Regions from separate parts of the Homo sapiens genome. Here region 1 is linked to region 2. Evidence: fine-mapped expression QTL. A gene starts in region 2. The other region holds a variant in brackets. All regions are shown on one strand. Distances are from middle to middle.

Evidence for each region. PIP is the estimated chance that this variant, and not a neighbour inherited with it, causes the effect.
Region 1: its variant is fine-mapped to the expression of MEOX2 in anterior cingulate cortex (GTEx, PIP above 0.99). The same link has a PIP of 0.9 or more in cerebellar hemisphere, cerebellum and prefrontal cortex.

The regions. Positions count from the first base shown.
Region 1 is chr7:15,735,099-15,738,019 of GRCh38, reverse strand. It overlaps LOC105375167 (a long non-coding RNA gene), which reads left to right. Exons shown (of 3, transcript XR_927058.2): 3 at 1,251-2,846. Among named protein-coding and RNA genes, the nearest start is that of LINC02587, 48 kb to the right of the region's middle. The variant G/A (reference allele first, on the strand shown) is at 1,256.
Region 2 is chr7:15,685,235-15,688,155 of GRCh38, reverse strand. It overlaps MEOX2 (mesenchyme homeobox 2), which reads left to right and starts at 1,473. Exons shown (of 3, transcript NM_005924.5): 1 at 1,473-2,270. The coding sequence starts at 1,754. RefSeq lists an enhancer at 2,277-2,921.

The DNA.
Region 1 (2,921 bases), 50 kb before region 2:
AAATCTTAACAGCATATTGGCACAGAGTCTGAAATAAATGCAAATAAACAAAAAATTAAATACCCAAACTAATCACACGTTCTTGCAAGTTGCTCATAAGTGATGCCTCTTGCAATTCTATGTTCTGAGAACTACAGATTTGATAGTCAAATTCAATTACATCACATCCTTGGCAGTATACATTCTTGTAACAGGATGTTCAAATGGAAACCTTTCTTTTTAGTTTTGGTGGAGACTTCAAATTCCAAGACGAAAACAATAGCAGGCAAGTGCTTCCACATTCCACACTGAGGTGATATACTACTGCCTATATATGACTAGCAAAGGAAACAGTGCAGAAACAAAAATGCAAACAGTTTCTTGAACTCTAGCTACATATCCTTTATAGCACAACATTTTTCAGGTTAAAGAGCTAAGAGGATTTTTTTTTATACAGTTGCTGAACTGCTATGGATTTTTTTTTTGTCTCTATTCAAAGAGGCAAAAAAGAATGGAGGGTGCCCTAGCCTTAACTGAAGTCAGCTATGGGATCTTTAATCTAATCACCTAGAGAGCTTGAGATATATACATATGTATATGTATCTGTATATCTGTATGTGGATATGAATGTATAGATATATGTATCTGTATATCTGTATCTGTATATGAATGTATATATAAGATATAAATGTATCTATATATACATTCATGTACATGTATATACATATATATACAATACATATGTCTCCTGGAGATATATATATATATATATATATATATACAGCTCCTGAAGTCAAAAAACAGAACATACAGGTTCCTGAGCAATCTCTGAGAGAAACAGGAAAAGAGAGCGGCAAAGCAGCCATCACAGACTTCCCTGCAATGTGTTTTTTGTGATACAGGGATTGTGCCAAGTGAGAAATAACGGGTCAGAGATTGATTTCAACTGTGATGAAGAGGACCATCTGCAGGTTTGATATGATCTCAACCAAAGGGATATATCTTCAGAAATCTAAGACTGAGTGGGAAGGGAAAAATAATACAATTTATTATCCAAGTCAGGGGAAGTGCAGTAGGACTTCGTGAAAGAGTCAGATGTAAACGTTTCCTAAAGCAGGATCACAACAGTAACAGACAAGTCATAATGTTTCTTCGCTCACTGCTCTTTTTTCTAATTCTTCTTATGCTATAGAGGATAGAAACCTGGGGACAAAAAGAAGCAATAGTTACAAAATAGAAATGATGGAGACACATTCCCTTTTTCATTGCAGGCTCC[G/A]TACCTGAAAAGGTACAACAAGGAGGGATGAAGAAAGATCACTGACCAGAAATAAAATTGGGAGTTTAGACAATTAAATTATCTGGACATTTTAATTCCTGAACTACGACTAGGCTACAACATGCGGACTGCTGTAGATGTCACCCAGGAACAGAAAATAACTAGCCTCGTGAGAAAGTTTTGAATGGGCAAAAGGGAAATTGAATACAATTGTTTTTTGCTTGCACCATATAGAGGCGTATTCTTTCTATGTACAGTGATAGGAAACTGGTGGTGTTTGACATCATCCAAAAACAGGGCCCATTTTTTGAATCATAAATTATCTTCATGAACACACCCATTGCCTTCAACATACAGCCTAAGTCTCATACTTTCTAAAATATCTCCGGTACCTGCTCCAGTTCTCAGTGATCACCAATTCCTTTGTCCTCCAATAACATAAATTTCTTTTCTACCTTGTACTTAGAATTCTGTTCAAACTATCTTGTTGTATTCAAAATAATTTTAACGAGCTATAGTTGACATAACATATTTAGTTATCTATCTATGTATCTGTCATCTATCAATCATCTGATGAGAATTTATCATTACACTCAAGATAATGAGCTCAGACATGATTCCCAAATATTTTCTCATCAGGCTTTGTAATTCTTCCCTCTCAACACTCCCCAGCATCCCCCAAACCCAATAAACCACTAATCTGCTTTCAGTCACTATAGATTCATTTATATTTTCTGAAATTTTATATACAATGGAATCATTCACTATGAACTCTTTTTCATCTGACGTCTTATATTCAGCATAATTATTTTCATATGTTTCCGTGTTGCAGAGTATAATTTCGTTACATAGATATTCTATCTTATTTATCAATTTACATTTTTGTAAAGATTGTGAAATAAAAATAAAATCCTAAGCCCTGCAACTGACTGAGCAGACACCTGTTGCCCAAGAAGACTCCAGAAAAACTTTGAAAAATTGAGTTTCCTGGTCATGACAAGGTGGGAGGTTGAGTACCTCTTGGTGTACCTCATTCCTTGCCAATCTTTACTAGATTATTTTCTAAGGGTTAAACAGAAACTGGCCCTGGAAAAATAAAGAAATGAAAACTCACTCCTTTGCTGATTTCAGCCAACTGCTGGACACTGCAGCTGGAATCCTCTCCCTTCTTGTAGTTTCTACACAGCAGCTCACCAGTTTCATAGCACATTCCTTTCTGATTTTTTACTACCAGCCATGGACTGGTTCTGGCCAGATACAGAGGCTGCCCACAAGATGTCTGTCATCTTTTAATGTATACAGCCTAATTTTAATACATTTAAATGTTAATTCTCCATCCTAAAGTGAACATGTGACATATGTAATATGTATGTTTGCTTACTAGCATATGTGTGTCCCTTGTGAATATTCATAACTCTTTTTATAACTTGTTGATATGTATACTTAGCCATCCTGTCCAGTATAAATTCCTGTCTCATCCTTCTTCCATTGAAGTACCTGCTTTTGATTTCTGCTGGAGGCTATGCTTCCCAGTCTGCAGGGTGGCCAGCCTGCAGGCGGAAACCCTTTATAAGAAACAAAGCTCTCCTCTCCAAATATATGGATCTCATGATTTCAAGTCTACAAGACTTAAGTTGTTTTCTTTTCTTTTTTTTTTTTTTTTTTT
Region 2 (2,921 bases):
AAGGGGACTGGAAGAGGAGGGGAAAGGTTCTGCTTTGGGGACACCTCTCAAAGATTAATCAATGCTTTTTCCTAATTCAAACCAGATGTCTAGCCCAGTTTGCTGTACCCATTAATCCCACTAACAACTTCAAAGACCTGGTCATCATCCTCTGGACACCTGAGACAATGAAAAAACGGGGCGACACTGCTGGTGGCGCATTTGGGGCCCCGGGCAGAATAGGTGACTACAGATATTCTCCTGATGCGACAGGTCGCAGATGGGACATGACTGTTCCTCCTGCTCATTACAGCGCCACTCACTTGTGTGTAAACGACTCTGCCCCCAGCGGACCCTGTCGCCCGCCAAGCAAGTAGCAGCTTCAAAGCCCTGCCCTCGCTCTCGCATGCTTACTAGAGGCGAGTTTTCTATTTTATTTTCAGGGGTGCAAAATTGTAACCAAGTGCCCACGGTGAGTGAATTTTGGGAGCTATCGAAATGTAAGAATTCTCAGTAAATGGAACCCTGGTGGTAAGGAATGCATTAGCGGATTTATTTTTGAGCAGAAGAGAGTGGATTTCTGGAGGAAACCGAGGAGATCTGGGCTAGCTCCTGAGGGGAAAGGCTAGAAATGCGCGTGCAATCTACACATCTCATATGACCGGGACACAATCGCTTGGAAATATTCTTGACCCAGGAAAAGTTCTTCTTGGTGGACAAGTGGCTAGGAAATTGAGCGGGACCGGGAAAGAGGGGGAAGGGAGCCTCCACCTGGCATCGCACGTGAGGATGCCAGGGAGCAGGCATCTGCAACCCTTTCAGACTCACGCCTTCCTCCCACCCACCCAACCAGGTCCGTCTTCTTTCTGCACTGAGAACCGCCTTTTCCAGGCCATGGTGCTCATCCCCGCAACCTCAGATCTGGCGTCCCAGCCTATTAACAACCCACCGACAGAAACCAGCTGCGAAAACCTAGGCGCGCTGCGGCGCCCGGGGCACGGGAAGATGCAAAGTTTGAAAAACTTCGAGGGTGCGCCAAACTAGCTCTGGTCTTTTCCTTTAACCCTATTACTTCTTTCGTGTTCCTGAAAGGATAGGCGTATCCCTAGCTTTTCTGCAGGTGACAGTTCCCAAATGACACTGACAAGTCACGTTTCCCCGAGAGGAAAGTGAGTAGGTAGGAATCAGGGTGCTAGGTTGGGGGTGGTGTGCGCCGCGCCCAGGCCTCCAGAGTCTGGAGGGCAGAGCTGCTGCCCTCCCGGGCGGGACTTAGACGTTGGCGTGCCGCTTGTAGTCCTGGCAGCCGGCAGTGCTGGGCGGGCGTGGACGCTCTACGTCCGTCCAGCAGGAGATAGGAAGTGGAACTGGGAGCGCGTGGCGCAGGCTGAGCGGGAGTTTTGGAGGGAGTTTGCATGTGGTCAACTCTGGGCTCCTAAGCCAGCCCCCAGCTCACGTTACACTCTATTTATAACTTCTCAGAGCCATTTCCCCCTGAAAGCAGTTCTCTGGGACCACCTTCTTTTGGCTTCAACCTCTCCCACTCTTGACATCTGAGTAGCTCAGGGAAGCTCTTCCAGGTCCGACTGTTCATATGTAAAGGAGACTGGCCGCTGGGGCTCAGGACCGGGATTATCCGAGCTCTGCAGAAGTGCACCGCTATTGCTTTGGGAGGTTAAAAAAAAAATCACACGGTTTCCAGTGAAAAAGTGACAGAGGGTGGTGGCCTTTGGAACCGCCGTGAAGTCTTCTGCCTGGAACCCGAAACTTGCATGCTATGGAACACCCGCTCTTTGGCTGCCTGCGCAGCCCTCACGCCACGGCGCAAGGCTTGCACCCGTTCTCCCAATCCTCTCTCGCCCTCCATGGAAGATCTGACCATATGTCTTACCCCGAGCTCTCTACTTCTTCCTCATCTTGCATAATCGCGGGATACCCCAACGAAGAGGGCATGTTTGCCAGCCAGCATCACAGGGGGCACCACCACCACCACCACCACCACCACCATCACCACCATCAGCAGCAGCAGCACCAGGCTCTGCAAACCAACTGGCACCTCCCGCAGATGTCTTCCCCACCGAGTGCGGCTCGGCACAGCCTCTGCCTCCAGCCCGACTCTGGAGGGCCCCCAGAGTTGGGGAGCAGCCCGCCCGTCCTGTGCTCCAACTCTTCCAGCTTGGGCTCCAGCACCCCGACTGGGGCCGCGTGCGCGCCGGGGGACTACGGCCGCCAGGCACTGTCACCTGCGGAGGCGGAGAAGCGAAGCGGCGGCAAGAGGAAAAGCGACAGCTCAGGTAAGGGCGCGCCAGGCACCCTCGAGAGTGCGCGCCGGGCTGGAAAAGGGGCGGAGAGATACTAGGGGAGATTCTCGCACTGGAGGGTGGCAGCAGGGAAGATGGGAATGTGTTGCCCTCTGTGGCTTCCTGCGGCCAAATTCGGCGGTGAAGCTTTGGTCCTGATATTTGGGGACACGTGTTTATTCGAGAGCAATGCGTATACAGCCAGCAGCTCTAAGCCCTCCAAAGTCCTAAACTAGTTTACCAGAAGGTTGATAAAAAAGGACAAGTGGCTGTGAAATCGATTGTGAAGCGTGACCTTCCATCCCAGCGCTGGGGAGGGAGGGGCGTGCGCCCAGGGATGCAGCGTCCGTTGGGCAGGCGTGCGTGCGGGTGCCGCTTCTTGACTTTTCTCTTGCAAGTTGCCGACTCTGAGTGGCTCGATTTTTCCCATCGTTAACTGGATTTCCAAATTATTGCACAATGTTTGGAACTTGCAATGGAACTTGGCAGAGCGCATGAGAAAAAAAAGTTTCAGTTTTTTTTTTTTAACATTCTTATTTCAGCGTTCTTTAAATAGCACCCTATTTCAAATGGTAAAATTTTCCCTTTATTGGGGAAGAAGACATTATCTAGGAATTCAGATTTTAAGGAATGTGTCAGAGAATT